3 separate regions of the Homo sapiens genome follow, and all the other regions are reported to be linked to region 1. The links are microRNA targets in miRTarBase. Many come from high-throughput screens and were not tested one by one. Region 1 holds a microRNA gene; each other region holds the end of a gene's coding sequence.
Evidence for each region. Region 1 holds the annotated microRNA hsa-miR-575 (GAGCCAGUUGGACAGGAGC, at 1,243-1,261, opposite strand). A microRNA usually pairs through its seed, bases 2 to 8, with sites in the 3' UTR of a target mRNA and lowers its output. Matches are read on the target gene's strand: a 7mer-m8 pairs with bases 2 to 8, a 7mer-A1 pairs with bases 2 to 7 and ends in A, and an 8mer does both.

Region 2: the mRNA of CHCHD4 is a reported target of hsa-miR-575. Seed matches in the 3' UTR shown: 7mer-m8 at 2,142-2,148.
Region 3: the mRNA of PGAP1 is a reported target of hsa-miR-575. Seed matches in the 3' UTR shown: 7mer-A1 at 1,939-1,945, 7mer-A1 at 2,714-2,720 and 7mer-A1 at 3,122-3,128.

Annotation. Positions count from the first base shown.
Region 1 is chr4:82,752,110-82,755,109 of GRCh38, forward strand. MIR575 (microRNA 575) reads right to left here and starts at 1,321; the gene lies at 1,228-1,321. The region is part of intron 1 of SCD5 (stearoyl-CoA desaturase 5); the gene reads right to left.
Region 2 is chr3:14,110,058-14,113,412 of GRCh38, forward strand. It overlaps CHCHD4 (coiled-coil-helix-coiled-coil-helix domain containing 4), which reads right to left. Exons shown (of 3, transcript NM_001098502.2): 3 at 2,020-3,137. The coding sequence ends at 2,830. Among named protein-coding and RNA genes, the nearest start is that of CHCHD4, 13 kb to the right of the region's middle.
Region 3 is chr2:196,838,261-196,841,615 of GRCh38, reverse strand. PGAP1 (post-GPI attachment to proteins inositol deacylase 1) reads left to right here. Exons shown (of 27, transcript NM_024989.4): 27 at 244-3,355. The coding sequence ends at 382. Among named protein-coding and RNA genes, the nearest start is that of C2orf66, 31 kb to the right of the region's middle.

The DNA of each region.
Region 1 (3,000 bases):
GAATCACCATCACAAGGCCTGAAGTATTTAACTTTAGTTAAATATAATTTTAAACCAGGAAAATCTGCTCATGTATGGGAATTTGTAGTTCTATAAGGATTAGGGAAAACAGAAGGCAGAATACAAGCAATATCTCTCAAGGTTGACCTTGAATTTTAAAAAATTATATATATATATATATATGCAAAATCAGGCAAGATCTTGACACTCCAAAATGGTGTCTGTGGCTCTTAGTGAGGTGGAAGCACAGGGACGTGGGAATAGGTGGGAAGAAGAGAGTCTTTTAAAACCAGCCAGCTGAAATGTTCTTGTCAATAAAGGCATCATTTTACTTCTTCTACTAGGTTAGGATGATTTGAAGGCCTGCATAAACCAAAAGCTGTCACTATAATTCAAGGATAATTGGAACAAATGGCTGCTTAGCACCAGAAAGAGATGGGGCTGAGGAGATGGAATCTTCCAGCCTTTGGGTTGTTCCAGGGAGCATGATCTTCACCTTAAATCCCAGCTGAACAATATCTGTCCCTTTTCCTGTCCCCTCACCAAAACTGGACCTGGAGAAGCCTATGTATTTGTTTGCATGGAATCCTCGCCCTGTGAGCACACACACATCCACTCAGTTCTTTCACGCTTCTCTCTCTTCCCCATTCTTCACACACACAGCTACATCTGTTTCCCTTTTTCCCCCTAAATAAACTTACTCCAGTGTTGAAAATGGATACAAATTGAATCCTACCCACCAAATACTGCATCACATTTTCCCAAAAATGACATGACTTTACCCCAGTGATAAAAGGGAGGTCCTCTTTGCTACCATTAAAATATATCTTTTACTTAATTCCCTGCCCTCTCCTCACCAAGAAAACTCAGTAAGGAACTGCAGGGACCTTAAAGACCATCCAGACTTTGGCTGTGCAGAGTGTGTTCTGGGGACCCACACCATCAGTTTGCCCAGGAGCACATGGGAAGAGAAGAATCCCCAGCCCCACTGAAAACCACAGGACTGGAGTCTGCATTTTAGCAAGATCCTATGTGATTCCTGTGCACATTCCAGTTTGAGAGACATGTGTCTAGGGAGCATGTCTCACCTACTTCATGTGAGAGTTACCTGGGGAGCTTTTACAGCCACCCAAGCCTCACCTGAGACCAAATTAATCCACATTCTCTAGATGGCTATGTGTGTTAAAAGCTCCCTGGGGTGGGGGTGGGGGGTTCTGTGTATGGCCAGAGTTGAGTGGCACTGCTCCTGTCCAACTGGCTCATTGTGCAGACAGCCTGAGTAGCCCAAGGTCATGACATAAGCCAGTGGCAGGGCTGAATTTAAAGGCACAAAGCAGTGCGCCCCAGAGTCACGCGGGTGGACTCTGACAGTGATAGTGTCCATTTCCCACATCTGCCAGGAGTGTGGCTCTTTGTGGGCTGAGTCACCTGCGGGGAAGGGTTTCAGGTTAGAATGTTCATAGGGTGTCACCCAAATCACTGTTTTTAAGCCCTTCTCTACTCCCAAAGAAGTCATTTAATTTGGCCTGGAGGATAGCATCAAAAAACTATGTAACCAATGATATTTCTGCTTGACCTGCCAAATGTGTATTAAATGCATCCATATTTGCCTCCCCCCTCAGCCATCTTCCCCTTTTCCCCTGACTCCAGTTTATAGGAAAAGCAGCCAGCACATACCCCCCTGACAGAAGTCTATGAAAATCCAACTGAGAGGGATTAAAAGGCAGACAGGGCGTATTCCATTTCCTTGAGGCCCTGGGAAAATGTCACATCCGAGGCTGAGCCAGTCCTGATGAGAAAGCCTCGTTGCTGCCAGCTGGGAGGGTTCAAGGTTTGCCAAGCACTGAAGACACTGTTTATGAAAAGCTTTAAATGTCAAGTACCCTGGCTCCTTAGGGTCCTCCCACAAGATAACGCAGTCTCTTGTCAAGCACAGACTCGCCCGAAAAATGAGACCTGAGAAAGGGGCAAGGCTGAGGCATCTGTTCAAAGACAAGCTTCTCAGAGGCCCTGGCTTCTTATGTGGAGGAAAACTTATCTCCCCGTTTTGCAGGAGTTAAGAAGGGCAAAAGAGAATGACAGTGCAGGGAGAGAAAGCGGGAAATCAGAAGAGAAAGGAGAAGGGAGAGAAGAAAGTGAGAGAATGCAGGAAGAGAGAAATGTGCAGATACTAAAAATAAATTCAAAGGCCCTGCTTTTCAACCTCCTCAGTTTTCATATCACAGAAAAGCAGCTAAATCTTCTGAGAAAGCTCAAATGCAAGGACTAAGAATGGGAAAGCAGAGAGAGGGAGGAGAAGTCCTTTCATCAAAATACTTAGGAATCTCAGTGCGTGGTCACTTGGCTGCCACAGGAGGGGTCTGGGTGGTCCTAAGAGGGAGAGGGACTCCTTCCAGGCTCCCCCCAGGACCCACCCTCCCCTCACCAGCAGCCCACCCTCCTAACCCGACAGGGAGGAAACCTGCTCAGTGCTGCTATTTACAATTTCCATTCAGGCAATCTTCACATTTTGGAATGGCATTTGCCAAGGGAGACGATCTCAGCTCCTCTTCTATTTTCAGGTTCCCTCTTGCATAGCGGATGGCATCAGTACTAAGCTCCAAGAAGCAATTTAGAAGAGTGGTTGCTGGAAAGTGGGGGAACCCATGCCAATCTACAGACCTGCAGAGCCTGGGGATGAAGCTTTTATTTTTAACACTGGGATCTGTGAGGCTGACCTATATTTCACTTCTTATATCGGCAGAAGTGACAAGCCTCGAAGGCCAGGGCACAGAGCTGAGCCTCAGGAGTCTGAGGCTTTGAACACTTCACTCAGAGGAACAGAAGCAACAAGACACCAAGCCCACCATGGACAGAGACAGCCGCTAAAACAGAAGGTGCCAAAGTGCCTAGGCTAAGGTTGCAGGGTGCACTCAGTAGACCAGATGGGAAGAACTTGATGTCAGTTTTACCTTCAGAACTTGGAAAGTCTATAGCCAGACCAAACTATGCAGCTAACAA
Region 2 (3,355 bases), not on the chromosome of region 1:
AGTCATGGTGGAGCACGCCTATAGTCTCAGCTACTTGGGAGGCTGAGGTGGGAGAATCGTTTGAGCCCAGGAGTCCAGGGCTGCAGTGAGCTATGATTGTGCCACTGCACTCCAGCCTAGGCAACAGAGCGAGACCCTGTTTCTAAAATAAATACATGTTAAAATCTGTACAGTCCTAGAACTAAGGACTAGAATGTAGTGTTCTATTAAGAAGCTTGGCTGATATGCTGCACTTGCCTATAACACAAAAATACAAAACAGGCTGAGCATTCCAGCGCTTTGGTAGGCTAAGGCAGGAGGATCGCTTGAGCCCAGGAGGTTGAGCCTGCAGTGAGCCATGATTATGCCACTGCACTCCAGCCTGGACAACACAGCGAAACTCTCTTAAAACACAACACAACAAAACAAAACAGACATAAAACATTGTGTTGGTAATTGCATTTCCAAATCAGTGTTATTTTGAGCAGCCCTTTGTTTCAATTATTGCTGTTCTTTAAAAATCATCAACTTGCATTTATCTGAATCATTAACTCTTTGATCTATTGGTGTTCTTACATTTAAAGATACACAGCAACTTAAATATGAATTATCCAAACCCCTTGTAGTAAAGCATAATCTCCACCCACTTCCAATTGCTTATACGGTGCCAATTCCTTATCACCAATTTGTTTTTCCAGTGATAAGTGGAAAAGGATGGAACCTTTTGCCTAACCCAAGTCGAGTTGGGCAGACAGTTCGAGAATCTCTGCTGTAAGTTACCATGGCTGGAAGAACCCAGCCCTGAAAATCCAGCACCATTATGTAACACTCATCCATTCCTTTCTGCTTTCTAGTAAATGTTGACTTCCTGGCTAGATTGTAGCTTCATGGGCAGTACCATGAATGAATCACTCTATGTCCCTAGGGCTTGGAACTGTAGATTCCATGAATGCATCAAATAAATGGGGTACATGACATGGTCACAAAACAGTAACACCTTGATTGTGACCAAAATTTTAACAAAAGAAATATCGTTTTTAAATGTGCAAAACTCTGTTAAAAGAAGTCGTTAGGGTCTGTCATGCCTTCCATGCTTGGCCAGCTCCAGGTTCTTAGCTCCTAATCAAGCAAGGTTTAAAAAAGCTCTGGATATAGAAAGCAGTTCTCTACCTCCATACACCTCCCAACCACAAATCCTTGCATTTTAACCATGCCTTCAAGCTTTAACATGGTGGCGCCTCATTCTCCAGTGTGGCAGGCAGCTTCCTGTTACTCGTATTCTTGTGTCCCTCTCCTTGAGTGTGGGCTGTGTCTCACTTCTAACAAACAAATAGACTATGGTAAAGTTATGGAATGTCCGTTTTGAGATTAGGTGATGAAAAGGCTCTGGCATCCATCTTGCTCTCTCGCTTGCTCTGATGGAAGCCACCTCCCATGTTGTGAGCTGACCCTTTAAGGCAAAGGCCATGTGGCAAGGAACTGAAGGAGGTGTCTGGCCAACAGCCAGTAAGGCACTGAGGCCCTCAATCCACAGCCCACAAGATTCAACCCACTGAACCCTCCCAGAAACCACTTCGAGCGATCTTGAAAGGCCTGTCCCACCTTGAGATGACTACAAGTATCATAGCCTCATGAGACACTGAGCCAGAGAACCCAGGTAAGCCATGCCCAGATTCCTCGTTTCAAGCTATTAAGTTTTAAGGCAATTTTTTACATAAATAACTTAACACATTTGAGACAAATGAGGCATTACTATGCCACAGCCTGAAAACTGTCTAGCAGTTACCTTAGGCAAGTTAATCTATTTTCAAACAGGAAGAGCCTTCCCCACCTCATAGACTAACTGTAATGTCTGTGTGAAGGCATCTGCTCACATATAAAATAAGTAAGCTTCCTTTGAACTCAACACAGAAAATTTTAACGGACTCAAATTGGTTTACCAATATCTTTCAAGAGGAATTTCAATTGAATTGTTCATAATTTATACTTTTTTATATAGAAAACATTTTTAACTAGTGAAAACAAAGGACACATTCAAAATCAGGTAGAAATCATGTTTCCTTTTAATTGAATACTTAATTCACAACGTTTCCTCTCTTGCTGCTACTCTGGTAATAATTAGGTCCCCACCTCTCAAGAACATTGCACCTGACTAGACTGAGAGCCAGTGTGAACATGGGCCCCAAACCAGGGCTTTCGGAATAACAAGGAACAGCCAAGCCAGCCTCTCCCTTCACTTAGAAAGGGATTATGAATGGAAGGGTCCAAATCTTCATCATCCAAACACAGAAAACCAGGAGCTCAACACCTACATGGAAACCAAAATGTATCAGGAATAAAGTACAGTACCCCTTCACATACTCAAGGTCAAGATGGGTTTGCAGAAATCATATCTGACCATCTGGCCTCTGCTAGTAGATATGGCCCCATCCCAGCATTTTTAAGAGATGTTTTTGTTGTATTATTTCCCCAAGGGGTATAAAATCTACCAAAAGGAATATAATGAATCAGAATAAATCAGCTCACTCACAAGAAACGTTCTTGGGTAATGGTTTTTAGTTGCTGAGCTTATTCAGCACATTATTTAAAAGTGGCAAAATTCAGGGCAATCTGAGAATTCAAAAGTGGCGGCCACAGGTTTGGGTAGGACACACATACATACAACCCCCATTTTTTTCAGTGTATATGTCAAGATGTCAAGACCTCAAGACCTCTGATCATCAAAATAAGTTATTTTGTATATTATAATGCACAGGACAACAGAAGGAAACTTTCTTGGAAGGTGATGACAAGGCCTTTTGCAAAAGGTCCACTCCAAAAGGACTGGTGCCCAGTGCCTTGTGGCCTTCATTAACTTGATCCCTCCTCTTCTTTGGTTGCAGTGGCCTCAATGGGAGCTGTTTCTTCTGCTTGTTCTGCTGGCTTCTTCTCTCTTTCCTCTTCCTCATCCTCATCCTCTTGGGGATAGAGGTCTGGGTATTTCTGCATGCATTCCTGCATGGCCCGGAACTGGTCTACACAGTCTGACCCCTTGATCTCCTCCGTGCTATAGTGGAAGCAGGAAAAGGCTGACTTAAACTGTTCTCCACAGGGACCGCTGGCCATTCCCCCAAGGCATGGGCAGTTCCAGTTAATGTTTCCATTTGGCAGTATCAATCCTAGAACAGGAAGATAGAGAGATGTTCTCTAAAGTTTCAGAAAATACAAAACTAGTCCAGTCCTCACAGGCTACTGAGGGGGTGCAGAACAGGAACTATTGTTGCCTATGGACCCACACCTCGATTTGGATTAGGTTTAAAGCCTAGCACATATCCAGCATTCCTTGGCCCACCTGGGAGAGAAGCCACCAATGACATATTTCTCCACGTGTGACACT
Region 3 (3,355 bases), not on the chromosome of region 1:
AACCCGGGAGGCGGAGCTTGCAGTGAGCCGAGATTGCGCCACTGCACTCCAGCCTGGGCAACAGAGTGAGACTCCATCTCAAAAATAAAAAAAGAAATTATGAATAGGTAAATTCATATCATTAAAAATTCATTTAAATTCACTTAGAATATTTATCTTTCCAAAACTGTATAAAAGATTGATATAATTTTGGCTCACAATGTAGTTCACATAAGTAATGTATATTTCTCTGTCTCTTTACAGTAAATTGTTGAAGACTACTTCACAATTTCCACTTCCTCTGGCTGTTGGTGTGATTGCTTTTGGGTCAGCACATTTATATAGGCTTCCATGCTTTGTCTTCATTCCTCTTTTACTCCATGCATTATGCAACTTTATGTAAGATTGGACTTAAGGAATGATGAAGATAATTTATGTGTTTAGGGCCAGTGATAAGAGGGAACACACAGATCCATCAGTATGGACAGCAAGATCCTTTGGAGAAGACAAGTCTATTTTTACAATATTGAAAATAGGAAATTAGTTTTGTAATGTTTGAGGGAAGTAGTTGAAGCATGGTTTTGTTTTGTGGTGTGGAATCCATGTAGTAATCATTTTTGAAAAATTCATGAAGGGATATATGGTGATCACTATCATTGAGGACTCCTGTGCATATAAAATAGTCTGTTTTATCAACTGTACGAGAAGTCTGATATGAGAGATTTAGTAGATGCAGCATTATTTGCAGTCTCACTGCAAGCATTCTGCTCATTTCATCAAACTTTTTTTCACAAAAGTAGGTTATTTTGAATTTGCTATAGTTTACCTATTAAGAAATAAGTCTTTAAATAACTGATGAAATTTATAGCTGTTTGGTTTCTCAAAGGTTAAATAGCCACAGAAAGCCTTTGGTTAGTTTTTGGCAGCCACCATGAACAAAGTGGATCTTGTCTTCTTACATCTATGAAAATAGAGCTTTGAATGGTAAGGAGATATGTTTTCTTGGTAACCAATGCAAGATTGATGGGTGGAAACATGATTCAAACTTACACAATTTTTCTTGCTATTTTTCAAATATGAATCTTACTATATATTCTCGGTGAACATCAGGAGACTATTAAAGAGGTCTGCTGTTAAATGTAAAGAAAAAATGCTCGTAGCTATTTGCTTCCTGGTATTGGAGCAGTTCAGTTGTTTAGTTTATACCATTGGATTCAATTCATTGCACCATGGTTGCCAAAAGTGCCTGAGGTCATAATGGATTGTTAAAATAACTAAATTCCAGTGGTTGGAAACTCTAGGTTTGTACCATTTTTTCTGCTGTGGGAAAAAACAACAACAACAACATGATCAAGGTAACATCACATTTGATGTATAATATTATACTATTAATGGAATATCAGTAGACAACTGTTAACCCATTAGTAGCATGAGTATAAACAGTACACCTGAATAAATTGGAGACATTAGCCACTAGGTTTAACAGTGGAATCTTGATTTGCCTAGGTGACTTCTGGGATTACTGTTTGACAAATAAGAGTAACATTTTATTTCATTTCAGAATTTACGTCACTTTTAGCTACAAGAGTAGGAAGAAGGTAATCGGCAAGGCAGAAGAGTATACTCTTTGCCTTAGGATAGCGTAAACTCAGGCTGAGACATACCCGGCTTATAGAGTTCTTCTAGATGTGTAGACTGTAAATGCCCAAATCCTCTCAACTAAAGTTTTAGTGATTCCACAAAGCCTCTCATGTAAATTTCCAGTGATTCCACCATTGCACTTGTGAATATGTATCCTTGTTAGTACCCAGGGATGTCCTCGAGCACCAGTTTTATTTTATCTGCCATTGCATCTGGATTCCATTACAGCCTCTCAGCTGTTACTGCCTGTGGACAGTTACTTCTGCTTACTGCCTGTAGAGAGTTACCTAACTTCTCTTCTCAGTTCTTCCTCAGGTCCTGGCTATTTTGGCCTCAGTTGAAGGGAGTCTTGCTCTCATCTCTGAGGGTTTTAAGTTTGTTTGATCCCATTGTTGTCTTTTCTAGCTTTGAGCATGTTTTTCAGTATTCATATTTTAACTTACTGAGAACATTAAAGGGAAATGATAAACTCGTGGTGGGGATATGGCAGACAGGTGCTTGTTTGTTTGAGAGAAGTAGCAGAAGAGATAAAATACAAAGTGCTATATGTTTCAGCTGGAGAGGAAAGAGAGAGAATTTATTAGATTATATACTTGTCCCATGGCATACCACGTATATGTTTAAATAGGGACACATCTCCCTATGTTTAACTATACTTATAAACAACTTTGATACACATTGCGTCTTTTATTCTGTCACCTGATATTTTAGTGTATCTCAAGTTACAGATTACATGTGTCCTTAAACTATTTCTGAATTTGGACTTAGTTCCATATACAGAAAGAACTTTAGAAAATTCATTAATTTGGATCTTCTATTGATAGCCATAAATATTATGTTTATGTATTCTAAAACCTCTTTGTTTAGTTAGTACTGTTCATGAATGTAACAAGCTTCAATTTCTCATTTGTGAGTAGTACATTTGCTTTTTGTTTGTTTGTTTGTTTGTTTTTGAGATGGAGTCTCACGCTGTCACCAGGCTGGAGTGCAGTGGCGCGATTTCAGCTCACTGCAACCTCCACCTCCCAGGTGCAAGTGATGCCCCTGCCTCAGCCTCCCGAGTAGCTGGGACTACAGACACCCGCCACCACACCTGGCTAATTTTTGTATTTTTAGTAGAGACGGGGTTTCACCATGTTGGCTAGGCTGGTCTCAAACTCTTGACCTCGTGATTTGCCCGCCTCTGCCTCCCCAAAGTGCTGGGATTACAGGCGTGAGCCACCACGCCCAGCCGTACATTTACTTTTTAAAGCAGCAGACTAGGTACACTAATTCTCACTCAAATATTTTCATGGGAATGTAGTTATCACCAAGTCCTAAAGTATTATTTATGCCAAAAAAAATTTCATTTTAAGGACTACAAAAATGATTCTAATTAAACATTTTATAATCAATAGTAGGTTGGGTCTTTAGCCATTATATGTGTATATATACAGACACATATGTATACACTTACATTTTGACAGGGTCTTCATTGAGTCTTGATGCACTTTAAACCCAGCTGGCTACCAGAGATGCGAAGGTGGGCTCTTTGAAGATTAGCAAAATGGACGTTTCTGTCACTTGAGAAAAGGAAAGTTCTTTGCCTTTAAATTACACAGTTTTCATCATGCCCACAATCTATATTATTGGCTGGTTAAACAGCACTGCCCTATTAGCAATGTTAACAAAAATGAAATTATTTATTGGCGGTTATAGATTATCTAATTCAGGAAATTTCTGAGCTCAACTTTTA